Homo sapiens: one gene and its partners. The protein of the gene in region 2 purifies or fractionates together with the protein of the main gene of each other region. This does not show direct contact. Each region holds a gene or a part of one and is shown on either strand. Other genes may lie near its edges.

What was found.
Region 1: the proteins of HDLBP (region 2) and SAE1 purify together in Homo sapiens (affinity purification with mass spectrometry, with the first as the bait; 2 studies listed by BioGRID). This does not show direct contact.
Region 3: the proteins of HDLBP (region 2) and UNC45A purify together in Homo sapiens (affinity purification with mass spectrometry; 2 studies listed by BioGRID, with this or other methods). This does not show direct contact.
Region 4: the proteins of HDLBP (region 2) and GTF2E2 purify together in Homo sapiens (affinity purification with mass spectrometry; 3 studies listed by BioGRID and IntAct, with this or other methods). This does not show direct contact.

The regions. Positions count from the first base shown.
Region 1 is NC_000019.10:47,196,826-47,203,849, forward strand, and holds part of SAE1 (SUMO-activating enzyme subunit 1), read left to right. Parts: intron 1-407; coding exon 408-552; intron 553-6,845; coding exon 6,846-6,915; intron 6,916-7,024. UniProt on the Homo sapiens protein: The heterodimer acts as an E1 ligase for SUMO1, SUMO2, SUMO3, and probably SUMO4. It mediates ATP-dependent activation of SUMO proteins followed by formation of a thioester bond between a SUMO protein and a conserved active site cysteine residue on UBA2/SAE2.
Region 2 is NC_000002.12:241,228,652-241,235,675, reverse strand, and holds part of HDLBP (vigilin), read left to right. Parts: intron 1-81; coding exon 82-186; intron 187-420; coding exon 421-555; intron 556-1,712; coding exon 1,713-1,856; intron 1,857-4,731; coding exon 4,732-4,917; intron 4,918-5,406; coding exon 5,407-5,523; intron 5,524-5,714; coding exon 5,715-5,843; intron 5,844-5,988; coding exon 5,989-6,075; 3' UTR 6,076-7,024. UniProt on the Homo sapiens protein: Appears to play a role in cell sterol metabolism. It may function to protect cells from over-accumulation of cholesterol.
Region 3 is NC_000015.10:90,938,279-90,945,302, forward strand, and holds part of UNC45A (protein unc-45 homolog A), read left to right. Parts: intron 1-1,452; coding exon 1,453-1,545; intron 1,546-2,027; coding exon 2,028-2,195; intron 2,196-4,158; coding exon 4,159-4,327; intron 4,328-4,633; coding exon 4,634-4,804; intron 4,805-6,613; coding exon 6,614-6,785; intron 6,786-7,024.
Region 4 is NC_000008.11:30,648,236-30,655,259, forward strand, and holds part of GTF2E2 (transcription initiation factor IIE subunit beta), read right to left. Parts: intron 6,950-7,024; exon of another isoform or gene 6,841-6,949; intron 5,747-6,840; exon of another isoform or gene 5,468-5,746; intron 5,368-5,467; 5' UTR 5,364-5,367; coding exon 5,198-5,363; intron 1-5,197. UniProt on the Homo sapiens protein: Recruits TFIIH to the initiation complex and stimulates the RNA polymerase II C-terminal domain kinase and DNA-dependent ATPase activities of TFIIH. Both TFIIH and TFIIE are required for promoter clearance by RNA polymerase.

The DNA of each region.
Region 1 (7,024 bases), on a different chromosome or scaffold from region 2:
CACAGTAAGGTAAATTGCTTTTATAATTATTGGATTGCCTCTCTGACTATGTTTGTTGAATAAATAAAAAAAGGTGGCCAGGTGCCGTGGCTCACACCTGTAATCCCAGCACTTTGGGAGGCCGAGGCGGGCGGATCACGAGGTCAGGAGTTTGAGACAAGCCTGACCAACATGGTGAAAACCCGTCTCTACTAAATATACAAAAATTAGCCAGGCATGGTGGTTCGTGCCTGTAGTCCTAGCTACTCAGGAGGCTGAGGCAGAAGAATCACTTGAACCCGGGAGGCAGAGGTTGCAGTGAGCCAAGATTGTGCCATTGCACTCCAGCCTGGGCGACAGTGTGAGCCTCCATCTCCAAAAAAAAAAAAAAGTGGCTTTATAACCTGCCTTCTTTTTCTTATTCCCAGTGCTCTTAAAGTTCCGTACAGATAAAGGAAGAGATCCCAGTTCTGATACATATGAGGAAGATTCTGAGTTGTTGCTCCAGATACGAAATGATGTGCTTGACTCACTGGGTATTAGTCCTGACCTGCTTCCTGAGGACTTTGTCAGGTTGGTGTCAGTATTTATCACTGTTTAGTCTGGACAGATAAAGTTTGTTTTCAGGATTTGCCTTAATTTGACAAGCTCTTTTATTAGAAACCCTTCAGAGAGCACCCTGCCACATTCTGCTCGCTCCTGTAGACTTCTGCCTCTCCACTAGAATAGCAATATATAAAAAATAAAGAGGGGACAGATTCTGATTTTTACAATAAGTATCTTATATTCACGTGGTTCAAAATTCAAGGCAATGTAAGATCTGTAAACATTATTCTCTACCTTTTTTCACTTTATGTGATCTTGTTATCTCTTGGGGACATCTCCAGATCAGTACATAGTTTGCTCCCTCTTTTCCACAGCTCCTTAGTATTCTAGAGTGTGAAGCGATGGAGTTTATTGAACCAGTTGCCTGCTCACTCAAGTTGTGTTCAGGCTTTTCTAACTGCGTAACACTGCAGTGTGTGACCTTGTGTCGTACGTGTGCAGGTACAACTGCAGGATAATTAGGAGGAAGGGAGTTGCTGGGTCAGAAGGTTGTAATTTATCATTTGGTCAGCATTGCCACCTTGCCTCCATTGGTATCCTATCAATTCATACCCCCAGCAGCAAAACCACCCATGTTCCCAGCATCCTCTCACTTGGACACTCCATGCTTTCACCTTACGTGACTACCTTTTTGCTCTCATAAACAGGCTTAGGATTTGATTGGAGAAGACCACATAGTGACTAGGTCACAATCTCTCTCTCTCTTTTTTTTTTTTGAGACAGAGTTTTGCTCTTGTTGCCCAGGCTGGAGTGCAATGGCACAATCTCAACTCACCGCAACTTCTGCCGCCTGGGTCCAAGCGATTCTCCTAACTCAGCCTTTTGAGTAGCTGGGATTACAGGTGCCTGCCACCACGCCCAGCTAATTTTTTTTGTATTTTTAGTAGAGATGGGGTTTTCCATGTTGGCCAGGCAGGTCTTGAACTCTTGACCTCAGGTGATCCGCCTACCTTGGCCTCCCAAAGTGCTGAGATTACAGGCATGAGCCACCACGCGCTCCATCCACATCTCCTTCCAAGCAGCTCTGGGATCATGTACACACCCTAATTCCCTTTCCATGTCTTGAGAGGCTTCCTAAACTCGGCTTTGCAGTGCCTCCAGCTTGTAGCAGTGATAATGATGGCTGCAGTTTACTGAGCAGCTGTTATGTACTAGGCATCAGGTAGTAAGTAGCCAACCCAGATCCCACCCCAGGTATCATTACAGTGCTTGCTCTAGTAGCAGCATGCTACCTTGGTTTCTTATCAACAGTAAGGTCTGCCAGAGTCCCTAGTCCTTTCTTTGTTGACTTCCTGCTGGGAACTTCAGGTGAGCAACAGCAAACCCCACTCCATTTAGGGCCAGCAGTGGTCTTTGAAGCACCTGTGGTGCCCTGACCCAAAAAGCCATGATTGTCCTGGTACAGTGGCTCACACCTATAATCCCAGCACTTTGGGAGGTTGAGGCAGGCAGATTGCTTTGAGCTTAGGAGTTTGAGGCCAACCTTGACAACATGGTGAAACCCTGTCTCTACAAAAAATAGAAAAATTAACTGGGCATCGATGACTGGTGCTTGTAGTCTCAGCTACTCTGGAGGCTGAGGCTAGAGCATCGCTTGAGCCCAGGAAAGCAGAGGTTGCAGTGAACCAAGATTGCACCACTGCATTCCAGCCTGGGTGACAGAGAGAGACCGTGTCTCAATACATATAGCGTAAGGCTGGGCGCGGTGGCTCACGCCTGTAATCCCAGCACTTTGGGAGGCCGAGACAGGCAGATCATGAGGTCAGGAGATTGAGACCATCGTGGCTAACATGGTGAAACCCCATCTCTACTAAAAATACAAAAAATTAGCCAGGTGTGGTGGTGGGTGCCTAAGTCCCAGCTACTCGGGAGGCTGAGGCAGGAGAATGGCGTGAACCCGGGAGGCAGAGGTTGCAGTGAGCTGAGATCACGCCACTGCACTCCAGCCTGGGCGACAGAGCGAGAGGGAGACTCCTTCTCAAAAAAAAAAAAAAAAAAAAAAAGGCAGCAATAGAGTGGCAGTGCCTGAGCACACGAGACTGAGACATGGAAAAGCGGTTTCCCCAAAGAGGGTGGGCAGGGAAGGAACCACTTTGGAGAGAAAACCAGCCAGCAGCTCGTTAGGCTGTGGCTTTCCTCTTCTAGGAAGCAGGGCCTTCAACTCTGCTGGCCGGTGATGCAGAGCCAGACCGTTCATCACTTTGAATGCCCAAGTAGTCACTTGGCTGCACACTCACGGCCCAGCACACAGCCCCAGGTATGCTCAGTGGCTGCCGCTTGCCACTGGCTGACTGGCTGGGATTATTGGAACTGAAGCCCTGCATGACCCAGTCCTTCTTCCTGCTGCGAAGCACAGCAGAGGAAACACTTGCTTCTCACAAACTGGTCATTCCTCCACCAAGAGATGAGTGCCCCAGTGAGTTACCATGAGATCCAAGCCTGTACAGTGTCATCAGCCGCTGACCTCACGGTGCTGATGTTACAAAGGCACCTTGTAAACTGCTGCCTATGTTTAGATGATGGCTTTTTTTTTTTTTGGAGACAGAGTCTCGCTCTGTCCCCCAGGCTGGAGTGCGATGGCATGATCTTGGCTCACTGCAAGTTCCGCCTCCCGGGTTCACGCCATTCTCCTGCCTCAGCCTCCCCAGTAGCTGGGATAACAGGCGCCCGCCACCACGCCCAGCTAATTTTTTTTGTATTTTTTAGTAGAGATGTGGTTTCGCTGTGTTAGCCAGGATGGTCTTGATCTCCTGACCTCATGATCCACCTGCCTCGGCCTCCCAAAGTGTTGGGATTACAAGTGTGAGCCACCACGCCCAGCCTCTTTTTTTTTTTTTTTTTAAGATAGGGTCTCTCTCTGTTGCCTAGGCTAGAGTGCAGTGGCACATCATAGCTCACTGCAGCATCAACCTCCTGGGCTCAGGCAACACTCTCATCTCGGCCTCTTGCGTAGCTGGGACTATAGGCGTGTACTACCAAGCCTGCCTAATTTTTTTTTTTTTTTTTTTTTTTTGTATTGACAGGGTCTCACTATGTTCACCAGGCTGTTTCCTATTTTTTAAAGTTATGAACCGCATAACAAGAGAGTATACAAAGCACATCTGCCTGAGTTAAATGATAATTAATACTTATTTATTTTTGTTGTAGAGACGGGGGTCTCACTCTGCTGCCCAGGCTGTTCTCAGACTCCTGGATTCAAGCCATCCTTCTGCCTTGGCTTTCCAAAACTTCTGGGATAGACAGGCGTCAGCCACTTGTATCTCTTTTAATTTGGAATAGCCCTTGGCAAACTGGCTTGCCACCTCTTTTTGTAAATAAAGTTTTATTGGCACACTTACTCATTTATATATTATCTGTGGCAGCTTTTGTGCCACAGCAGGGTTAAATAGTTATAACAAAGACCATATGGCCCATAAAGCTGAAAATATTTTATTATCTGGTTCTTTTGTTTGTTTGTTTGTTTTTGAGACAAAGTTTCACTTTGTCACCTAGGCTAGAGTGCAGTGGCATGATCTCGGCTCACTGCAACCTCCACCTCCCGGGTTCAAGTGAATCTCCTGCCTCAGCCTCCTGAGTAGCTGGGATTACGGGCATACGCCACCATGCCCAGCTATTTTTTTTTATTTTTTTATTTTTTTTATTTTTTTTTGAGATGGAGTCTTACTCTGTCACCCAAGCTAGAGTGCAATGGCCCGATCTTGGCTCACTGCAACCTCCGCCTCTGTGCTCTGTGGTTCAAGTGATTCTTCTGTCTCAACCTCCTGAGTAGCTGGGACTACAGGCGCGTGCCACCACGCCCGGCTAATTTTTGTATTTTTAGTAGAGATGGGGTTTCACCATATTGGCCAGACTGATCTCAAACTCCTGACCTCATGATCCACCCAGCTTGGCCTCCGAAAGTGCTGGGATTACAGGCATGAGCCACTGCACCTGGCCTGTTATCTGGTTCCTTTTTTTTTTTTTTTTTTTTTTTTTTTTTGAATCAGAGTCTTGCTGTGTCACCCAGGCTGGAGTGCAGTGGCGTGATCTCGGCTTATTGCAACCTCTGCCTCCCAGCTTTAAGTGATTCTTTTGCCTCAGCCTCTGGAGTAGCTGGGACTATAGGCACGTGCCACCACGCCCAGCTAATTTCTGTATTTTTAGTAGAGACGGGGTTTCACCATATTGGCCAGACTGAACTATTCCTCCAATACGGCCAAAATGAGATTCTACCAGCAATGGGAGGAGTTTTTTTAATTATTATTATTGGGAGTCTCTCTCTCACCCAGGCTGGAGTGCAGTGGCACCATCTCGGCTCACTGCAACCTCCACCTCCTGGGTTCATGCAATTCTTCCACCTCAGCCTCCCGAGTATCTGGCATTACAGCTGCCCGCCACCACACCCGGCTAACTTTTGTATTTTAGTAGAGACGGGGTTTCACTATGTAGGTCAAGCTGGTCTTGAACTCCTGACCTCAAATGATCCACCCGCCTTGGCCTCCCAAAGTGCTGGGATTACAGATGTGAGCCACCGCACCCAGCCCTAGTTCTCCATGTATTTTAGAGCTCTGTAGTGGACCTTGATAAGCAGGAAGATGTTACCCCTGGATGAACAAAATGGGAATGTGCTGGTCCTGGCCAGGGCGTAAGGAGCCGGAGGTGCCTTTGGACACAGCTCTTGGGATTGGAATGGATACAGCCTTTTGGGAGGGCATTTTGGCAATACATATGAAAAACTAGCATTGCTATATTTAGAAATTTGTCTTAAGGAATTATTTCGACGCCTGTGTCTTTGTCAAGATGTATGATTACAGTGTTGAACAGCTTAAATGTCCCTCAATAGGTTATAGAACAGAAGAGTAATAGTTGATAATATTTGGGTTTAAAATTATACCTATTTATTTATTTATTTATTTTTTGAGACAGTCTTGCCCTGTCACCAGGCTGGAGTGTAGTTGTGCGATCTCAGCTCACTGCAACCTATGCCTCCCAGGTTCAAGCGATTCTCCTGCCTCAACCTCCTGAGTAGCTGGGACTACAGGCTCACCCCACCACACCAAGCTAATTTTTGTATTTTTAGTAGAAACGGGGTTTCACCATGTGGGCCAGGATGATCTCGATCTCTTGACTTTGTGATCCGCCCACCTCGACCTCCCAAAGTGCTGGGATTACAGGCATCAGCCACTGAGCCCGCCCTAATTATACCCGTTTAGATTGTGCACTTTTAAAAATGTCTAGAAGGGGCTGGGCGCAGTGGCTCACACCTGTAATCCCAGCGCTTTGGGAGGCCGAGGCGGGCGGATCACGAGGTCAAGAGATTGAGACCATCCTGGCCAACATGGTGAAACCCCGTCTCTACTAAAAATTCAGAGTAGCCGGGCGTGGTGGCGGGTGCCTGTAGTCTCAGCTACTCAGGAGGCTGAGGCAGGAAAATGACATGAATCCGGGAGGCGGAGCTTGCAGTAAGCCAAGATCGCGCCACTGCACTCCAGCCTGGGTGACAGAGCGAGACTCCGTCTCAAAAAAAGTCTAGAAGGATGTGCACCACACTGGGGAGATTGGAGGTAGTTCTGTAGGGAGGCTTTCCCTTTCACTTGTCTGTGTTCCAGTTTGCTTGGTGAGCACACAGCATTGTGTTCAGGAGTAGGAGCTGGCAGAGCACACTTCCTTTGGGGAAGTGGTGGAATTAAGTGATTTGCTTACTAGGATGGGTAACTTGGAGGGGCAGGTGACTGTGTCATCTAAAATTTGTCCTCTAGATGCCCCATCCTGGCCCAGAAGGGCTGGTTTCTATGTGGGTTGTGAAGACTTTTTCTGCCCTCATACTTTAATTTCACGCCTCAAATTTCCCTTGCTTCCTACATGTTAACACAGGCCTGCTCCCTGACATTTGTCTGGGAATAGCATATAGAACCCACTGGCCATTATGGGTAAGAAGAGAATTGCGAGAATGTGACCAGGGCACTGAAACATCTGATATCTCTAGGACAGATATAGGAAGCACAGATATAGTCTTTCCTTTAACTTATAAAGGTAAAAATAAAAGTATTGTGAAAGAATTTCTGCTTGCCAAAGTTCAAAGGTCTTTTCCAACCACTTATGAATCCCTTGCTCAGATTTCATTTTCACGCCTAGATGCCAGCATTAACACTGCTATCTGAATCGGGCCCTCCTGCTAGAAGTTGTTTTTATTCAGGAGAGCCTACTACTGAATTTCTCCAGATGTCATGGTCACAGTTCTGTTCCCAGTGCTCCATTTTCCTTGTCTTCCTCTCTTTTAGGTACTGCTTCTCCGAGATGGCCCCAGTGTGTGCGGTGGTTGGAGGGATTTTGGCACAGGAAATTGTGAAGGTAAAACATCACTGTGGAGCAGAAAATTGTTAACCATGACTTTGTATATGTGCTGACAGAGAGAATGGAAACTGTCTTAGACAGCTGCCTGCTTTCTCTCACCCCATTC
Region 2 (7,024 bases):
TTCGTGGAGCCCCATTGCTGAGCTTACAACGTCACTCTGCTCTCAGCTCCCACGGCCTAACCATGACCATCCTCCCTGCAGGCATTGGTTCCTGTCACCATTGAAGTAGAGGTGCCCTTTGACCTTCACCGTTACGTTATTGGGCAGAAAGGAAGTGGGATCCGCAAGATGATGGATGAGTTTGAGGTAGACCCCTTTCCCGGGAGGCCATGTCACAGGAGTGGCCTGTCGCATCCTCTCCCGAGTGCCAGTGTCCTTTCTCAACTTCCTGTTGACTCTGCCTCCTCCTGCTCGGACTGGGCACTGACTTCCCTTCACGGCGGGTGGCCTTCCCTCTCACCACTTCTGGGTCCCAGGGCCAATGGACTCTTTCCTGTTCTCTGGGGTCCTGAACGTCAAGTCAGCCCCCTCTTCACGTAGGTGAACATACATGTCCCGGCACCTGAGCTGCAGTCTGACATCATCGCCATCACGGGCCTCGCTGCAAATTTGGACCGGGCCAAGGCTGGACTGCTGGAGCGTGTGAAGGAGCTACAGGCCGAGCAGGAGGACCGGGTGAGCAGGAGGTGGCCGGGGCACTGCCCAGAGCCATGGTGCTCAGCTTTGGGCACATGTCAGAATCTAGGGAAGTTCTTCAGGATCCCAGCATCCCAGCGACATCTGGCTGGAGGTGAGATGCAGGCAGTGCCAGGACGCAGTCAGCATCCAGGGGTCTTGCTGTGGAACTAGCCAAGAGCATGGCACCTTTCTCTTTTTCATAAAAAAGTGACAAAGTTGGACTTCCGTGTAAATTTGCAGTTTCTCTCAAAACCAAATCAGAGTGGTACCTCAGACCTACAAGAAAGGTCAAGGTTGCGAGAGGCCCCCAAGCATGTGCTATGCAGTGAGGACGAGCATCGGGGACCCCCACTAACCTCTAGCACAGGGTGGTCAAAGGGCGAATGACTTCCTGGTAAGCAGGGATGAAACCCCCCCAACCTCTGGCAAGGCTGACGTTTGAAGGATTGTATGAGCGGAGCGCTGCAGACGCCCAGCCTCTGGCAGGGCTGACATTTGGAGGATTGTGTGAGCAGAGTGCTGCAGACAGGAGCAGGGGTTCTGGAACTTGGAGCAGACTGTGCTGGGGTGCTGGTTTGCTAAGGGGGTTGGCTTTCCACTCCTCCCGTGAGCACGTCGAGTCTGGTGAATGGGGTGGAGCTCGTGAACCTCACATGGTGTCAGTGTACCCCTGCGTGGACTCTGGGTTGTCTCCTGCAGCCAGGTCATACCTGTAGCCTTTGGCCATGGGTGTTCAGGGGCTGTGGCTGCCCCCTCTTCTTGGTCTGCATCTGCCCCAGTCCTAAAAAGATCCAGAGCATTTCTGTGCGTATCCATCAGATCCCTGTTTGACAAATGAGGAGAGCGGGGCCCCAAGCTCGTGACTCACTGCCTAGCTCTGTCAGTTCCTGAGCACGATCCTCGCAAGTGGTCCCAAGCCCTCTTTTGAAGGATTTATAGACCTCCTTGTGGAGCAGCCAAGTTCCCTGGTTCTCATTATTAGCAGATAATGGAAGGTGGCAGAGGTCGGACCAGAGAGATGGCGGACCATTCCGGACCACGGGTTACAGAACACTGCAGCATCTCCAGTGTCCTATGACCAGGGTGGAAGGGGAATGGAGTCACAGGGTGGATCAGCTCAATCTTTGCCTCATTCTTGCTCCTTTCATTTGTAGGCTTTAAGGAGTTTTAAGCTGAGTGTCACTGTAGACCCCAAATACCATCCCAAGATTATCGGGAGAAAGGGGGCAGTAATTACCCAAATCCGGTTGGAGCATGACGTGAACATCCAGTTTCCTGATAAGGACGATGGGAACCAGGTGAGAGCCTCGGTTGGAGCGTGTCGGGGGCAGAGGTGCTTGTTGACCTTTCCTGTGACTTGGGAGCAGTAACCAGATGTGCCTAGATGGGGGTTCGAGGGCCAAGTTGAGAGTGGCAAGTCTCTCAGGACCTAATTCTGGCTTGAGGTTTGGGCTGTGTCTCGGTACTTGCCAGATGGGTGAGGTCTCTGGCACTATGTATCATCTGGGGCCTGGAGCATTTTCTCCTGCGTCTCCTTCCAGAAAATGAGCAGGAGCTCCAGCTGGGTCCTTGATCAGTGGCGCCTCCAGGTGTAGCTCATTCACCTGTCACCCGGGCCTCTCTGAGGCTCCCAAGGGCTCTCATTCACCTGTCACCTGGGCCTCTTGGGGTCAGGTGGACATTTCTCTGCAGCCCCAGCTGCAAACACCGTTGTGCTTGCCAGATGGTCCTTAGTAAACTCTTGTTGTTACTTCCTCCAAATTGCAGTGCCACCCCCCTGCCACTGGCCCTCATGGCCTCCTGCTTCACTCAGAACAAAATGAAAGGCAGCCCCATCCCCTCTCTGGGCCCTGCCACCTGGCATGCAGGGCAGCCTCACCCAACACCCCCTCTTGCACACACTTCCCAGGCTTGGTCTTTCCTGGCTCTGGCATCCTGCTGGGGTGTCTGCTTCCTAGGCGTGTCCAGCACAGCTTTGCCCACAGTGGGAGACTAGCAAGCCTTGGTGGCCACAGTTGTGCTGGTTTCCAGAAACAGCAAACCCCCTGGCAGCAGAGCCCCTCCACGCCCCTCGCTCCCACTGTGGATGTGCCGCCCAGGGTTTTCCGCTGCTTCCCCTTCCCCTTCCCCTTCTTCCTCCCCAGCTTCTTGTTCCCTTTTGGATCTTTGAGTCACACACACACCAGCCAGGCCAGGAGGGCCCTCCTGCACCCTGCCTCCTCCAGCTCCCACGTCCTCTTCCCTCCCCACATACATTTTTTAATTTTTAGTCTTGATCTTGAGAGTTTAGTTCTTTTTTTTGAGAGAGATAGTCTTTGTCTTGTTGCCCCAGGTGGAGTGCAGTGGCGCGATCTCGGCTCACTGTAACCTCTGCCTCCCGGGTTGAAGTGATTCTCGTGCCTCAACCTCCCAAGTAGCTGGGACTACAGCTGTGAGCCACCGCTCCCAGCCCAAGAGTTTAGCTCTTTTAAGCCCCTCACCCTTATTGCCTTTTATTTCCCTCTACTATTCTATATAATTATCAATCTTAAAAGTCATTATAGGTGAGTCACAGTGGCTCACGCCTGTAATCCCAACACTTTTGGAGGCCGAGGCGGGTGGATCCCCTGAGGTCAGGAGTTCAAGGCCAACCTGACCAACATGGCGAAAGCCTGTCTCTACTAAAAATATGAAAATTAGCCAGGCGTGGTCGCGTGCACCTGTAATCCCAGCTACTCGGGAGACTGAGACGTGAGAATCGCTTGAACGCAGGAGGCGGAGGCTGCAGTGAGCTGAGATCATGCCATTGCACTCCAGCCTGGGCGACAGAGTGAGACTCTGTCTTTAAAAAAAAAAAAAAAAAGTCATTGTTTAGCAATTAGACTATTCCATCTAATACACCATGAGCCAAGTGGGGTGGAGCAGTCATTTCTTCACAGGCAGCTTTTTCCTGTGAGCTGTGCTTCCGATCTTGAGGTTCTGTACCTGGCAGCACGCGGGTGGTGCCTGAGGCTGTCAGCTCTGCTGGGCCACGGTGGGTGGGGCTGCTGCCTCCCACTCTGGCATTTTGCTTCAATCTGGACAGAAGCTTCTTGGGCTGCTGCTCTGTTGTCTCTAGGTTAGGTCTTTCTGCTCATTTCCTTTCCAGGCATTTGTCCCTGTCCTCTAGTCCTGTTGCGTGATGATGGTTCCGTGTTGTGATTTGTCCCTGTCCTCTAGTCCTGTTGCGTGATGGTTGTGATTTGTCCCCGTCCTCTAGTCCTGTTGCATGGTGGTTTTTGTGTTGTGGACATGTTGTTTTCGCCGATTGTGGGCTACAGGTGTTTTGTTACCACGTTTCCTTCTCTATGCCCTGAACTGTCTGCTTGGTCTGCTTGTCTGCTATCCCAAGTCTGGTATGGTGTCTCCTGTCCATTTGTGTGGCCCAAGGAAGGCCTGAGCAGGTGGGATCTCTGAGTGAGGGAGGGGCTCGCTGAGGAATGCCAGCCAGCCTCCAGCCTCCAGCACAAAGATGCCTCCAGACTGTGGCCCACGTGGGCAAAGAAGCAGGAAGCTGAGGGGCTTGGGGCTTTGTCTTTGCCCCGCTGTCCTTGAGTCCAGAATTCTTGCCTGTTAGTGTCTCTCCTTTGTCTTTGAGGACAAATGTCCTTTTTCGTTCTGTAATTCACTGTCTTTTGGGTAGAGTTTGGGAAGAGATGGAAGCTGAGTGGACATAGGTTTTTTGTGGGGTGTTTTTTTTTTGTTTTTTTTTTTTTGAGATGGAGTTTTGCTCTGTTGCCCAGGCTGGAGTGCAGTGGCGCAATCTCGGCTCACAGCAACCTCCGCCTCCCGGGTTCAAGCAATTCTCGTGCCTCAGCCCCGGGAGTAGCTGGGATTACAGGCGTGCACCACCACGCCCGGCTAATATTGTATTTTTAGTAGAGGCGGGGTTTCTCCATGTTGGTCAGGCTGGTCACGAATTCCGGACCTCAGGTGATCCGCCTGCCTCGGCCTCCCAAAGTGCTGGGATTACAGGCGTGAGCCACCGTGCCCGGCCCTGAGTGGACATTGTTAACCTCTTGTTTTAAATCAGCCGTGACGTTGCTTTCCATCTTCTCTCCTGAGCTGTTTTCCTCAGCAGTGGGGGCCGGCTCTTGCCCCTGACGGGAATCCCAGTAAGGCATCCCCTTTTCTGACTACATTCTCCTTTTTTAGCCCCAGGACCAAATTACCATCACAGGGTACGAAAAGAACACAGAAGCTGCCAGGGATGCTATACTGAGAATTGTGGGTGAACTTGAGCAGATGGTTTCTGAGGACGTCCCGCTGGACCACCGCGTTCACGCCCGCATCATTGGTGCCCGCGGCAAAGCCATTCGCAAAATCATGGACGAATTCAAGGTGAGCCGGCTGGAAGCACAGTGGGTGAGAATCCTCTCTCACCGGGGGCACCTGGCTGGCCAGAAGAAAGAGCAGGGCATGGCCTTCCCCTCAAGATGATGAGGCCACAACCCCAGGGCTGGCAGTGGAACTGTCCTCATGGACACCACGGGTCAGTGCAGGCGACGGCCTGTGTGAGGCTGCACTGCCACGGTGGCCATTAGGAGGGCATCTCCTTGACAGCTGCCTGGCGAGCTCGTCCTCTGTGGGTGGGAATTTCATGCAAGAGCGCACAGTACGTGCTGCGGCCCTCTGTCTGCTGGGAACAAGGTGCTCCTGAGATACACCTAACTTGGTGTGGTGATGAGGCTGACTGACTTCAGAACAACTCTGAAACCAGATTTTAAAACGTTTGCTAACTCAGAAAATGCTTCACTAGAAATTGACACATAATTTTAACCCTTTTCCTCGCTTGGAGTCCCCTCATCTGACGTTGTACACCCCTTCCAGGTGGACATTCGCTTCCCACAGAGCGGAGCCCCAGACCCCAACTGCGTCACTGTGACGGGGCTCCCAGAGAATGTGGAGGAAGCCATCGACCACATCCTCAATCTGGAGGAGGAATACGTGAGTCTCTGTGGGCCTTGGAGCCCTGAGGCGCCCTGGCACGTCCACCGGCCTGAGGCCCAGCCAGGAGCTTCAGGGGACAAGGTGGCACTTGTGTTTCCAGAGGCAGGCGAGGTGCAGGGGTGAGCAGGCGGGCGGGATGCTGGGGGTGCTGGGCAGACTGACCCTGTCTTCCTGTCTTCTGCCTGCAGCTAGCTGACGTGGTGGACAGTGAGGCGCTGCAGGTATACATGAAACCCCCAGCACACGAAGAGGCCAAGGCACCTTCCAGAGGCTTTGTGGTGCGGGACGCACCCTGGACCGCCAGCAGCAGTGAGAAGGTCAGATGCGGGCTTCTGCCCTCCTGGGTCCCAGGGAGGGTGGGCGGGCAGGCGGGCTTGGTGTCCTGAGGGTGGCAACTGCGTCGGAAGCTGCTTGCGAGTTGGGGAGCATCCCCTCCTGAAGCCGTGTCCTCTCTCTGCACAGGCTCCTGACATGAGCAGCTCTGAGGAATTTCCCAGCTTTGGGGCTCAGGTGGCTCCCAAGACCCTCCCTTGGGGCCCCAAACGATAATGATCAAAAAGAACAGAACCCTCTCCAGCCTGCTGACCCAAACCCAACCACACAATGGTTTGTCTCAATCTGACCCAGCGGCTGGACCCTCCGTAAATTGTTGACGCTCTTCCCCCTTCCCGAGGTCCCGCAGGGAGCCTAGCGCCTGGCTGTGTGTGCGGCCGCTCCTCCAGGCCTGGCCGTGCCCGCTCAGGACCTGCTCCACTGTTTAACACTAAACCAAGGTCATGAGCATTCGTGCTAAGATAACAGACTCCAGCTCCTGGTCCACCCGGCATGTCAGTCAGCACTCTGGCCTTCATCACGAGAGCTCCGCAGCCGTGGCTAGGATTCCACTTCCTGTGTCATGACCTCAGGAAATAAACGTCCTTGACTTTATAAAAGCCAAACGTTTGCCCTCTTCCTTTCCCACCTCCCTCCTGCCAGTTTCCCTTGGTCCAGACAGTCCTGTTTGTGGAGTGCAATCAGCCTCCTCCAGCTGCCAGAGCGCCTCAGCACAGGTGTCAGGGTGCAAGGAAGACCTGGCAATGGACAGCAGGAGGCAGGTTCCTGGAGCTGGGGGGTGACCTGAGAGGCAGAGGGTGACGGGTTCTCAGGCAGTCCTGATTTTACCTGCCGTGGGGTCTGAAAGCACCAAGGGTCCCTGCCCCTACCTCCACTGCCAGACCCTCAGCCTGAGGTCTGGTGAGTGGAGCCTGGAGGCAAGGTGGTAGGCACCATCTGGGTCCCCTGTGGCCGTCACAGTGTCTGCTGTGATTGAGATGCGCACAGGTTGGGGGAGGTAGGGCCTTACGCTTGTCCTCAGTGGGGGCAGTTTGCCTTAGATGACAGCTGGGCTCTTCTTCACACCACCTGCAGCCCCTCCCTGCCCCTGCCCTAGCTGCTGTGTGTTCAGTTGCCTTCTTTCTACCTCAGCCGGCGTGGAGTGGTCTCTGTGCAGTTAGTGCCA
Region 3 (7,024 bases), on a different chromosome or scaffold from region 2:
TTAGGAGAAAAGAATCTAAAGACCATTATGAGCTACAACCAAGCTCAAATTCGCCAGATAATTTGACGTTAAAATGCTGACACAGTGGAAGCAGATAACATGATGGCAGACACCTCACTGAAATGTTGAAGCCTGGGAAAGCAAATAGGTTTCCTCTCTCAATGCCAACTCTGATTGGCAGTGGCTGCCCAGAGTCCTATGTTGAGAAGAATTAGGAAGCAGATTGCCTGAGCCAAGCAGGGGAACGTGCCATGACTGGTTAGTCATGGCTGCCATGGATGCAAGAGAGGAAGGCGGGTGGTCCACATGCTAGGCTTGTGCCACCATCTATGCCCAGGACTCTGGGGGGTGGGGGAGTAGGCCTAGGATGATCTTCCCCATTCAGATTATTTATTTATTTATTTATTTGTTTGTTTTGAGACAGTCTTATCCTGTCACCCAGGCTGGAGTGCAGTGGATCTCTGCTGACTGCAACCTCCACCTCCCAGATTCAAGCGATTCTCCTGCTTCAGCCTCCCGAGTAGCTGGGATTACAGGCACCCGCCACCACACCTGGCTAATTTTTATATTTTTAGTAGAGACGGGGTTTCACCATGTTGGCCAGGCTGGTCTCAAACTCCTGACCTCAGGTGATCTGCCCACCTCGGCCTCCCAAAGTGTTGGGATTACAGGCGTGAGCCACCGTGCCTGGCTTCAGATTTTATTTATTTATTTTTTTGAGACAGAGTTTCACAGTTATTGCCCAGGTTAGAGTGCAGTGGCGTGATCTCGGCTCACTGCAACTTCCGCATCTTGGGTTCAAGTGATTCTCCTGCCTCAGCCTCCCGAGTAGCTGGGATTACCGGCATCTGCCACCACGCCCGGCTAATTTTTTGTATTTTTAGTAGAGATGGGGTTTCACCTTGTTGGCCAGGCTAGTCTTGAACTCCTGACCTCAGGTGATCCACCTGCCTTGGCCTCCTAAAGTTTTGGGATTACAGGCGGGAGCCACTGCGCCCAGCTCAGATTATTTTTAAAACAGTGAAAAGAGAATTCTGGAGCTAAAGGAAGTGTTAGCAACTACCTCACGATCTGCCAGCTCCCTGGCAGGAGGTATAAATGCTGAGTTCAGTGCCATGGGAAGCCCATTCACGCTGCCACAATGTAGATGGCACCACTGGGAGTGGGTTGCCTCGTAGCTGACAGGATACCTCCCCTCCGAAAAGGCACTCCAGCATCGGCGCAGCCCCTGCTGCCCAAGCAGGAAATAGCTCAGAAAGAAAAACAGGTGCGGGAAATTTAGGAGGCACTGCCAGGCAAGTCTCTTCCTGCCCAGGGTAGCTAGGTGCTAGCCCTGAGCCTGGACATCTTTACTGTGCCTCCCAGAGTGAGGAGCTGGAGACAAATGAATAGGGAGTGTGATGTCTCTGGCCAAGAGCCGTGATTTGTTCCATGCTTTGTTGGTTTGTCTAGGTGCGATACATGTCCTCGACGGATGCCAAAGTGGAACAGATGTTTCAGATACTGTTGGACCCAGAAGAGAAGGGCACTGAGAAAAAGCAAAAGGTATAGGCCCTGGGCTGAGTCAGTGAGTGAGCTCCCACTAGAGCCACCCATCCATAGGCCCCCGAAGCCACTGCTGCCTTGCTCTGCCGCTCCTCCAATCGTGCAGCTGGGCTCACGGGGCCTGGATGGGAGCTCTGAGGGTCTGGGGCTTTAGCGTGAACCAAGGAAAGAGAACCAGTGTTCACAGAGTACCTTGTTGGCCACGCCCTGTGCCAGGAACTGGGTGTACAGAGGTAACTGAGGCACTGTCCCAGCCCCTCAGGCTCTGCTGGGGACTCATTTGCTCTAACCATCAATCCCGAGAGAAGGCTCTTCCCTCTATTTACAGAGGAAGCTAAACTTCAAAGAGGTTATTTTTTGGCCGTGGTCACTCAACTGTGAAGTGGAAGCAGAGAGGTCCAGGGCTCGGGGCCCCTGCTCACCAGTGCTGCATCCTATGCCGTGTGCAGTGTCAACATTATAATGTGCTTCCTTTGACGCAGGCTTCTCAGAACCTGGTGGTGCTGGCCAGGGAGGATGCTGGAGCGGAGAAGATCTTCCGGAGTAATGGGGTTCAGCTCTTGCAACGTTTACTGGACATGGGAGAGACTGACCTCATGCTGGCGGCTCTGCGTACGCTGGTTGGCATTTGCTCTGAGCATCAGTCACGGGTAGGTGGAGTGGAGAGGCTGGTTACAGCTTCAGTCCCTTTGTCTGTCTGTCCATCCATTCCTCCATCCACCCATCTGTCCATCCGCCCATCTGCCCGTCCATCCATCCATCCACTCTTCCACCCTCTACCCCTTACCTTATTCTAAAAAGAACTTAGGTAGGTTATGGTGCCTCACACCTGTAATCCCAGCACTTTGGGGGGCTGAGGCAGGTGGATCACTTGAGGTCAGGAGTTCAAGACCAGCCTGGCCAACAAGGCGAAACCCTGTCTCTACTAAAAATAAAAAAATTAGCCGGGCATGGTAGTGCACGCCTGTAATCCCAGCTACTCAGGAGGCTGAGGCACGAGACTTGCTTGAACCCAGGAGGTGGAGGTTGTGGTGAGCTGAGATCGCGCCACTGCACTCCAGCCTGGGTGACAGAGCGAGACTATCTCAGAAACAAAACAAAACAAAACAACAAAAAAAGAAAAGGCAGAGTACAAGGAGATACATGTAACAAGAGAGAAAAAATAAAAATGGCGTGAAAAAGACCAACATAAATTAGGATGAAGTGGGGTAGAAAGAGCAAAAACAGCCTTGGGGTACCCCAAGCACTTGCTTTGTAGGGGGCTTACAAGTGTGAGCCCCAGCTTTCCTGCAGCCAACTCACAAAAACACATTGGTCACTGACTCCTTCAATGTCCATATGGCACAAGCAAGCTCATGGCCCAGAATGTGCCTGGCCACCACAGCATCTACCATCGAGACAGTGACCGGACACGTAGGGCTTGATCCCGACATGATTCTCAGCATGGATGGTGGTGGCCCAGCATGGACAGTGCAGCAATAACAGTCCTGCTCCTGGGCCAGTGTGGTGAAGTCCATGCCCCCAGCTCTTACCTGAGCTGGCTTGCTCCAGGGGAGAGGGGACCAAAGACTAGGCCCTTGGTTGCTTTTAGAGGAGCCCACAATTCCTAGATAGGGGTGAAACTGTGAAATAGTCAATGAAATCTCTTTAGGCTAAGCTTGGGCTGCATTCTGGGTCTCCCAAGGCTAAGACTGTTAAAAGCATGTGCATTCTGTTCCCTCCTGCCTTCCGGTCCATTCCAGTTCACAGTCTTGGCCAAGGACACTTAGCTGCTAAGTGGAAGCAGTCAGGATTTGGGCTCAGTGGACCAAGCAGGCCTTCTAGGGTTCTCCAGCTTAGAAACAGGGTGGAGAGGGCCCGGCGCGGTGGCTCATGCCTGTAATCCCAGCACTTTGGAAGGCCGAGGCGGGCAGATCACGAGGTCAGGAGATTGAGACAATCCTGGCTAACACGGTGAAACCCCGTCTCTACTAAAAATACAAAAAATTAGCCGGGTGCGGTGGCGGGCGCCTGTAATCCCAGTTACTCAGGAGGCTGAGGCAGGGAAATGGCGTGAACCTGGGAGGTGGAGCTTGCAGTGAGCCCAGATCGCGCTACTGCACTCCAGCCTGGGCGACAGAGCAAGACTCCGTCTCAAAAAAAAAAAAAAAAAAGAAAAAAGAAAGAAACTGGGTGGAGAGGTCTCACGGGCCCATTCCGTGTACGTGACGTCCACATCCCCAGGGTGTGGAAAGAACCTCAGGGTTTAGACTGGGGAAGAACTAGACCATTAAGCCTGGTGGTCAGGTAGCTTCGTCTAGGTATAGGTCTTTTTCTTGGGGAGGCATGAGCTAAGGCAGCTGCTCCCAGGGCTGCAGTATACTATGTCTTCTCTGGCACCAAGGAGAGGTAGTAGGGCATTGCCGTGTAATGTCTCCTTTAGGAAATCTTTCTAACAAAATTATCCTGCCATTACCCTGGGTCATGCCATCCATTCTGTGTTGTTTTCACCTGGAGCTGGGCCTTCCACCCAATTCTCTCCTTCTGGCCGTATCCTCTAACTCACAGTTAGGGATCTCTGTGGCTGCCCTTCAACAACTGGAAGCTTCCTTCTGTTTACCTCTCCCACCCCAGACAGTGGCAACCCTGAGCATACTGGGAACTCGGCGAGTAGTCTCCATCCTGGGCGTGGAAAGCCAGGCTGTGTCCCTGGCTGCCTGCCACCTGCTGCAGGTTATGTTTGATGCCCTCAAGGAAGGTGTCAAAAAAGGCTTCCGAGGCAAAGAAGGTGCCATCATTGTGGGTGAGTGGAAGCAGGTCTGGGGTCTTTTGGACGTTACTGTCATGGAAGGGATGGGGCTGAGCCAGCCAGGCCAGTTTTTTGGGGACCAGACTTGCAGCTGCAGGTTGTTTGGAATACGGTTTGGTGACATTATTTTACTCTAGATTCTCAGCAACCAAGGTGCCTCAGGACAAAGCTGGAGCTCAGTCTGGAGCCTGGGATGCGGATCCCCCCTTCCCTGTGTCTCCCTGGTTTGTTGGAGAAGTTGAAGGGTCAAACTGGGCTGGGCTGCTGTGGAGCCCACTGATGTCTTCTTGTTGTTGCCAGATCCTGCCCGGGAGCTGAAGGTCCTCATCAGTAACCTCTTAGATCTGCTGACAGAGGTGGGGGTCTCTGGCCAAGGCCGAGACAATGCCCTGACCCTCCTGATTAAAGCGGTGCCCCGGAAGTCTCTCAAGGACCCCAACAACAGCCTCACCCTCTGGGTCATCGACCAAGGTAGGTGATATAGTTCACAAAAACTTGCTTCAGCAGCTGAAGTTTGTTTATTCTTAGGAGTAATAAGAAAAGTTGTGAGTGGGGCCAGGCATGGTGGATGACACACTTTGAGAGGCAGGGGGTCACTTGAAGCCGGGAGTTTGAGATCAGCCTGGGCAACATAGCGAGACCCTGTCTCTATGAAAAATTAAAAAAAATTAGCTGGGCATGGTGGTGTGCATCGGCAGTCCTAGCTACTCCAGAGGCTGAGGTGGGAGAATTACTTAACCCTGGGAAGTCAAGTCTTCAGTGAGCTGTGATTGTACCACTGCACTACAGACTGGGCAACAGAGGGAGACTGTCTCAAAAAAAAAAAAAAAAAAAAGAAAGAAAAGTTGTGATTATCTCCAGCCACGTGTCTGCACTGAAGTGCGTCCTGTGGCCCAGGAGGATGCTGGAGCTGAGAAGATCTTCCAGAGCAATGGGATTCAGCTCTTACAACACCTTCTAGACACAAGAGCTACCCTTAGGGGGCTCAAAGTTAGACTCTTCTATCATATGCGTGTGCACATACATGCACATTGAGCGGGCCTGCAAGCAGGTTAGCAGAGAGGCTGGATTAGCTTTCTGTATTTTTTTTTTTTTGAGACAGAGTCTCACTCTGTCGCCCAGGCTGGAGTGCAGTGGCGCGATCTCAGCTCACTGCAGCCTCCGTTTCCCGGGTTCAAGCAAATCTCCTGCTTTAGCCTCCCGAGTAGCTGGGATTATAGGCACGCATCAGTATGCCCGGCTAATTCTTGTAGTTGTAGTAGAGATAGAATCTCACCATGTTGGCCAGGCTGGTCTCGAACTCCTGACCTCAAACAATGCACCCACCTTGGTCTCCCAAAGTGTTGGGATTACCGTCATGAGCCATTGTGCCCTGTTTTTTTTTTTTTTTTTTTTTTTTTGTTTGAGTGAGCATGTATTACTTCTATACTCAGAGGAAAAAATAACGGTAGATATATCAATTCATCTCTCTTTTCCCCTAAAAGATAAATAAGAGCTGGGCGTGGTGCCTCACGCCTATAATCCCAGCACTTTGGGAGGCCGAGGTGGGCAGACCACAAGATCAGGAGTTTGAGACCAGCCTGGCCGACATGGTGAAACCCCGTCTCTACTAAAAGATACAAAAAATTAGCCAGGCATGCTGGCATGCACCTGTAATCCCAGCTATTCTGGAGGCTGAGGCAGGAGAATCACTTGAACTCAGGAGGCGGAGGCTGCAGTGAGCCGAGATCGCGCCATTGCTCTCCAGCCTGGGCAACAGGGCGACTCTGTCTTAAAAAAAAAAAAGATAAATAAGAAAAGCTTTGCAAAGGCCTTGCATGAGCAGGGCCTTTCACAATGGTCCTATGAGGTGTGGATATCGTGTTCACAGTGGTCCCACGAGGTGTGGGTATCGTGTTCACAGTGGTCCCACGAGGTGTGTCTATTGTGTTCACAGTGGTCCTACGAGGTGTGGGTATCGTGTTCACAATGGTCCTATGAGGTGTGGATATTCTTTTCCCCTTAGTTTTACAGATGAGGAACCTCAAAAGCTCCAGAGCGTTTGGCCCCAGGGGCAGGGCTGGCATGCAGGCCTCACTTCTGAGGTCCTTCCCGATCCTACAGCCGCCTCCCTTAGGTAGCAGATCAGCTAAGCAGATTCTCCGGGCTGCCCTGGACACAGTTGTCAGAACTCTGTAGCCTTCTTGTCTTGCTTTTCTCCACATCTCCTAGGAAGCCTGTTTCTTTTACTTGTAGGGGTTGGAACTAGTGTTCTACTGTCTAAGCGGGGTGTCTTTACAGGTCTGAAAAAGATTTTGGAAGTGGGGGGCTCTCTACAGGACCCTCCTGGGGAGCTCGCAGTGACCGCAAACAGCCGCATGAGCGCCTCTATTCTCCTCAGCAAGCTCTTTGATGACCTCAAGTGTGATGCGGAGAGGGAGAATTTCCACAGACTTTGTGAAAACTACATCAAGTAAGGAAGTCTGTTTCACCTCCCGTTGCCAGGGATTCTAGCGAAAAAGTTCTGACTCCTTGAGGAGGGGCAGAAATGAAAGGTTTCCAGCAGAAACAGTAATCTTGGGGAGGACTAGTTGGAGGCTGAACAAAGGGAAAGTGGCCCCAAGGCCCACTTCCTGCTCCAAAGTGGCCTCCGCAGGGAGGTTCTTTCTCAAGTCAATGTTCCAATAATGCAACAAACGCCATCAAGCACGT
Region 4 (7,024 bases), on a different chromosome or scaffold from region 2:
GAACAGTATGATACCACACCTAAGAGATAATTAGAGGCCAGATGAGGCAGGCACGCAGGCTGCAGTAAAACATGGACTTTATCTGAAAAACAGTAACAATCAGCTTGAGCTGAAAGCAACATGATCTAATGAGAAAAATCACAGCTGTATGAAGAATGAACACTAAAGCAGCTAAACCAGGAGACCTGGTCAACAGCTAACCTAGCAATCCAATGACCGTGGCCTGAACTAGAGTGGCATGGTAGCCTTTAGTTGTTACACCCAATATTTCCAGCTCTCTTCATTAAGGAAAGCATTCACTTCAGAGCCCCCTATGGCTGGGAACATAACTTTGGCCAATGAGTGACTTGTGACTAACTCTGGCCAATGAGCTGTGAGAGGATGTGACATGTGTCACCTTCAGGCCACAGCACTTAACTGCTAGTGCAAGCTCTTCCAGAGTTAGTTTTCCTGCTAGCACAGAACTCACAAACATTTGAGCTTCCAGCTGCTCTGCCAGCCTGGGTCCTTGAGTGACTATAACTAGCTAAGACTTCTACCAATCCATGATAAACATGTAGTATGAAGGAGAAACAAGCTTCTGTTGTTTTAAGAAACTGAGATTTTTGGGATTGTTACCACAACACAGTTTATCCTACCCTGACTGTTAGGGAAAACCCTGGCCAACCAAAGAGAAGTAAAACCCTACAAGGGCTCTTCCTGCTGTCGAATGGGACCTGTTTGTGGGGAAGATGAAATTCGCTACCCAATACCTGTAGCCTAAACTACAAAATGCAAAGACATTCTTGAGCAGGTCAAAGGCTCAAGTGGCTTAAGCCTGAGAGTGGCTATGTTAATGTTTAAAACAGTTTTTACATTTTTGTTTATGATGAGTTAATTCTATGTACATTTCATTGGAACGACATATAAACCTAATATATATTATAAGAATGACAGGCCTACTTTGATTTTTAAAAAAGCTTTGCTTCCAAATCAGTTATAAAACAGCTTGTAGGATGTGTAAAAAATTAACATCAATAAAAATTATTATTGCTACAATTTGAAGTAGCTAAATAATTTCAGCTGTGAATTAAGTTCCACTGACATTGTTTAAAAGATAATAATGTAAGAGTAAACTAAACCCAAAGCAAGCAGAAGGAAGGAAATAATAAATACTGATGTGGAAATAAAAACAAACAAACAAACAAACAAAAACCAAAACAGAAAAGCCAATGAAACCAAAGGTTGGTTCTTTGAAAAAAATCAACAAAATTGATGAACCTTTAGCTAGACTCATCAAGAAAAAAGGGAGAAAAGACAAATTCCTAAAATCAGAAATGAAAGAGGACACTGGGTGAGGTGGCTCAGGCCTGTAATCCCAGCACTTTGGGAAGCTGAGGCAGGCAGATCACCTGAGGTCAGGAGCTCAAGACTAGCCTGACCAACATGGCAAAACCCTGTCTCTACTAAAAATACAAAAATTAGCTGAGCGTGGTGGCACACACCTGTAATCCCGGCTACTCTGGGGGGCCTGAGAGACAGAGCAAGACTCCGTCTCAAAAAAAATGAGAGGGGATATCACTACTGACTTTATAGATATCAAAAGGATTATAAGGGAGTACTTTGAAAAACCTCAGACAATGTAAATGATGAATGAATAAACTTCTAAAAAGCCACAAAGTACCAAAAGTAACTCAAAAAGAAATAGAAAATCTGAGTAAACTGAAAAGAAAAAATTCTTACAAAGAGCTTTCCACAAAGGAAAGCTGAAGCCCAAATGGCTTCACCAGTGAATTCTATCAAACATTTTAAAAAATAACAAAGTTTCACAAACTCTTTCAGAAAATAGGTGAAAAGGGAGCACTTCACAAATCGTTTAAGGAGGCCAGAATTACCCTGAGAGGCACCAGAGAAAAACGAAACTACATACACATCAAGTCCCTCAGGAATAGAGATGCAAAAATCCTGACCGAAATACCAGCAAATTGAGTACCACAACAAATAAAAATGATTATACACCATAACCAAGTAGGATTTATTTCAGGAATAAATGCAAGGTTGTTTGAACATCTAAATATCAATTAATGTTAATATATCATATTAATAGACTAAAGAGTGAGAACATGCTCATCTCATTAGATACATAAAAAGCATCAGACAACATCCAGTACCCATTTATGACTAAAAACTCTCAGTCAGATGCAGTAGCTTATGCCTATAATCCCAGCACTTTGGGAGGCTAAGGGGGATGGATCCCTTGAAGCGGGGAGTTTGAGACCCACCTGGGCAACAAAGTAAAACCCCATCTCTACCAAAAAAAAAAAAAAAAAGTTTTAATTAGCCAAATGTGGTGGGCATGTGCTTGTAGTCTCAGCTACCCGGGAGACTGAGGCTTGCTTGAGCTGGGGAGTTTCGAGGCTGCAGTGAGCCATGATCACGCCAGCAGTGAGCCATGATCATGCCCGTACTCCAGCCTGGGCAACAGAGTAAGACGCTGTCTCGAAAGAAAACAAACAAAAGGCTGGGTGCGGTGGCTCACGCCTGTAATCCCAGCACTTTGGGAGGCCAAGGCGGGTGGATCACAAGGTCAGGAGATCGAGACCATCCTGGCTAACAGTGTAACCCCATCTCTACTAAAAAGACAAAAAAATTAGCCAGCCATGGCGATGGGTGCCTGTAGTCCCAGCTACTAGGGAGGCTGAGGCAGGAGAACAGCATGAACCCGGGAAGTGGAGCTTGCACTGAGCTGAGATTGCGCCACTGCACTCCAGCCTGGGCAACAGAGCAAGACTCCGTCTCAAAAAAAAAAAAACCACCTCTCAACAAACTAGAAATAGAAAGGAACTTCTTCAACTGGAAAGGGCATGTACAAAAACCTGCAGTAATATCATGCGTAAGAGTGAAAAACCGAATGCTTTGCCCCTAAGATCAGGAACAAGGCAAAGGTAGCTACTTTTACTATTCAATGTACAGCCAGTCCAGACAGGCAAGATAAATAAAAATTAAAAAGTTCACACCGGAAAGAAAGAAAGAAAACTGTTCTTATTCACAGATGACATAATCTTGACATAGAAAATCCTAGGGAAACCACACAAAAAACTACGAGAAATAAAAAACAAGTTCAGTCAGGTTACAGAATACAAGATCAATGTATTAAAAAAAACTCTTGTTTCTATATACTAGCAATGAACAATTTAAAAAAAAAAATCAAAGAAAACAATTTCATTCATAAGTGAGATTGAATCAGAATAAAATAACCGCTGGGTGTAATGACTCACACCTATAATCCCAACACTCTGGGAGGCTGAGGTAGGAAGATTGCTTGAGGCCAGGAGTTTGAGACCAGCCTGGGCAACAGAGCAAGATCCTGTCTCTACAAAAAATTTGTAAAAAGCCATCTATTCATTGACTGGAAGATCTAATATTGTTAAGATGGCAGTTCTTCCCCAAATTGATTTATAGATTCAATTCAATCCCTATGGAAATCCCAGCAGGCTTTTTTGCAAATGTTGATAGATTGACCCTAAAATTTATGCAGAAAAACTAAAACAATTCTTGAAATAAAAAAGAACTAAGTTGATGGACTTACATTTCTCAGTCTCAAACCTTAATTACAATGCTACAGCACTCAAGAGAAATGATACTGGCATAAAGATAAACACAGAAGTCAATGGAACCAAACTAAGACTCCAGAAATAAACTCTTTGATTTATGGTCTACTAATATTCAACAAGGGCGCAATATAATTCAACAGGGGAAAGATCATCATTTCAAAAAATGATGCTGGGACAACTTCATAAGAACACGCAAAAAGATAAATTTTGACTCTTATGCTAATCCATACACAAAAATCAACTCAAATATACTACAAACCTAAATGCAGGAGCTAAAACTACAAAACTCTTAGAGGAAAACACAGAAAAAAATTTTCATGACCTGTGTCAGGCAAAGATTTCTTAGATATGACACCAAGAATACAAATGATAAAAGAAAAAAACTGGTAAGGTGGACTTCATCAAAATTAAAAACTTTTGTACATACAAAGACACTATTAAGAAGATAAAATGACAAGCACTTGCTTGGAGAAAATATTTGCAAATGTATACCAGATCAAAGAATGGTAGCCAGAATATATGAAGAATTATTAAATCAATAGAGAGAGGAAATATACCTCAGTTTTTTTTATGGGCAAAAAAAAATTGAATAGACATTTCACCAAGGAATACACATGGTCAATAAGCACATGAAACAATGTTCAACATCATTACTCATTAAGGAAATGCGTATTAAAGCCACAATGATAGAACTTCACAACTATAGAAATAGCTATGATTAAAAAAAAAAAAACAGAATTTCAAGCGTTAGCAAGGATGAGAAAAAACTAGAACCCTGATACATTGCTGGAGGAAATATAAAATGGTACAGCTATTTTAGCAGTTTCTTAACAAGTTAAATATAAATTTGACATATGACCCAGAAATCTACTTCTAGGTCTCTATCCAAAAGAGATAAAAAGATATGTCTACACAAAGACTTGTACATGAATATTCATACCAACACTATTCAAAACAGCCAAAAAGTGAAAATAATCCAAATAACCGTTTATTGGTGAATGGATAAACAAACTGTGGTACATATATCCATACTATGGAATACGCTTTACCAATAAAAATGGAATGAAGTACTGATGCATACTACATGGATGGAACTCAAAAATATGCCAAGTGAAAAAAACAACACACAAAAGACCACTTACTGTACAATTTCATTTATAGGAAATATCCAGAAAAGGCAAATATACAGAGCCAGAAAGCAGATTATTGGTTTTCCGGGGCAGGGATGGGAAAAGTCACTGCAAATGGGCACATCAGATCTGCTGGGGGTGATGGAAATGTTCTAAAATTGGACTGTAATAACAGCTGCAAAATTCTGTAAATTTACCAAACATCTTTGAACTGTAAACTTAAAATGAATGAACTGTATGGTATGTAAATTAAACCTAAATAAAGTTTTTTTAAAGAGGTAATAACCTAAATTTTAACTACAGCACAAGACTATTAACATCCTAAGAGCTTAAATTCTCTTGTCCCATCCTTTATATTCAACAAAGTGCCTATCAACATGAGTGCTGAACTGAAAAATGAACTAGCCATAACTAAACGGTTTCCTCCTGAATAATCTGAATAAAAACCAAACAGTCCTAAACAATTTTACTAACCAGAATTTTGTTTAGAGCCTGACGATCCTCCATGTTCTACCTTTGTTTTCTTCTTCTTTGACGATGATGATGATGACTCAGAAGATGCTGAACGTTTTTCTACTACAGGAGTAGAAAGAGCTCGTTTTTTGAACAGCTCCCTTTCTCTCAACAGGCTTGGATCCATAATGCTACAAAGAAAAAATAAGTGTCTTTAATACAAATTCAAGTCACTCAAACCTGCACTCCAAATCCACAGATCTCAACAAGTTACTTCCCAAACAAAATTACCTTTTATTATTAGTTCTCTAGCACTTGCATTTATTCACTTATTCAAGTACTCAAGAAATATTTCATTAGCGCTTATTACACGCCAAGCACTGTACTAGCCATTATAGGAAAAAAAGAGGCCAGGCATAGTGGCTGAAGCACTTTGGGAAGCCGAGGTGGGCAGACTGCCTGAGCCCAGGAGTTGGAGACCAGCCTGGACAACATGGTAATACCTCCTGTCTACAAAAATACAAAAAATCAGGCAGGCATGGTGATGTGTGCTTACAGTCCCAGCTACTCGGGAGGCGGAAGTGGGAGGATCACTTCAGCCTGGAAGGTCAAGGCTGCAGTGAGCTGTGATAATGCCACTGCACTCTAGCCTGGGTGACAGACCAAGACCCTTGTTCAAAAAAAAAAAAAAAAAAGAAAGAAAGAAAAGAAACAGAATTATTCCCTAAAGTTCCAGAACTGTGCTGTCCAATATATTAGCCACTAGCCACATGTGCCTATTAAACATGTGAAATGTGGCTAGTTAAAATTGAGATGGACTTTCAAGTGTAAAAACCCACAAGATTTCAAAGATTTAGTATAAAGAAAAAAACTATTTAATTACTAACGAGATATTTTACATTAATTACATGTTGAAGTGATACTATTTTGAATATACTGGGTTAAATAAAATGTTAAAATTAATTTCACCAATTTTTCTTTTAAAATATGGCTATTAAAAAAAAATTAAGAGACAGTGTCTCACTGTGTTGCCCAGGCTGGAGTACAGTGGTGTGATCATAGCTCAATGTAGCCTTGAACTCCTGGGCTCAAGCAATCCTCCCACCTCAGCCTCCTGACTAGCTAGTACTACAGGTACACGCCACCACACACAGTTAATTTTTTTAAAAACTTTTTAGAGACAAGGTCTTGCTATGTTGCCCAGGCTGGTCTTGAACTCCTGGCCTCAAGCAATCCTCCTACCTCAGTCTCCCAAAGCACTAGGATTACAAACATGAGCCACTGCACCCAGCCTAGAATATTTTTAATTACACGTGTGGCTCACACTTCCCACTCCCATTATATTTCTATTGGACAACACTGCTGTAGAAACATGAGGACTACAGGGCAGAAATTAGAAGAAGGTGGATTTAGGCTCACTGCAAAAAAAGAGAACCATCAGAACTGCTTATACATAAAATGGCATATTTTTACAACTGGTGAACTCTCAATTATTAAGTGATGAAGAGGCTGAATTATTATACTATTTGTTAGAAATGTCTACAGAGAGCCGGGCACAGTGGCTCATGTCTGTAATCCCAGCACTTTGGGAGGCTGAGAGACCAGCCTGGGCAACATAGTGAAACCCTATCTCTACGAAATTAGCCAGTCATAGTGACACATACGTGTAGTCCGGGCTACTCAGAACGCTGAGACACGAGAACTGTTTGAGTCCAGCAGAGGTTGCAGTAAGCTGAGATCCCGCCACTGCCCTCCAGCCTGGGGGATACAGCAAAACTCTGTCTCAAAAAAAAAAAAAAAGTCTACAGAAAATTTCCAATTTGGAGGGAGGTGGTTTGAGGCAACTTC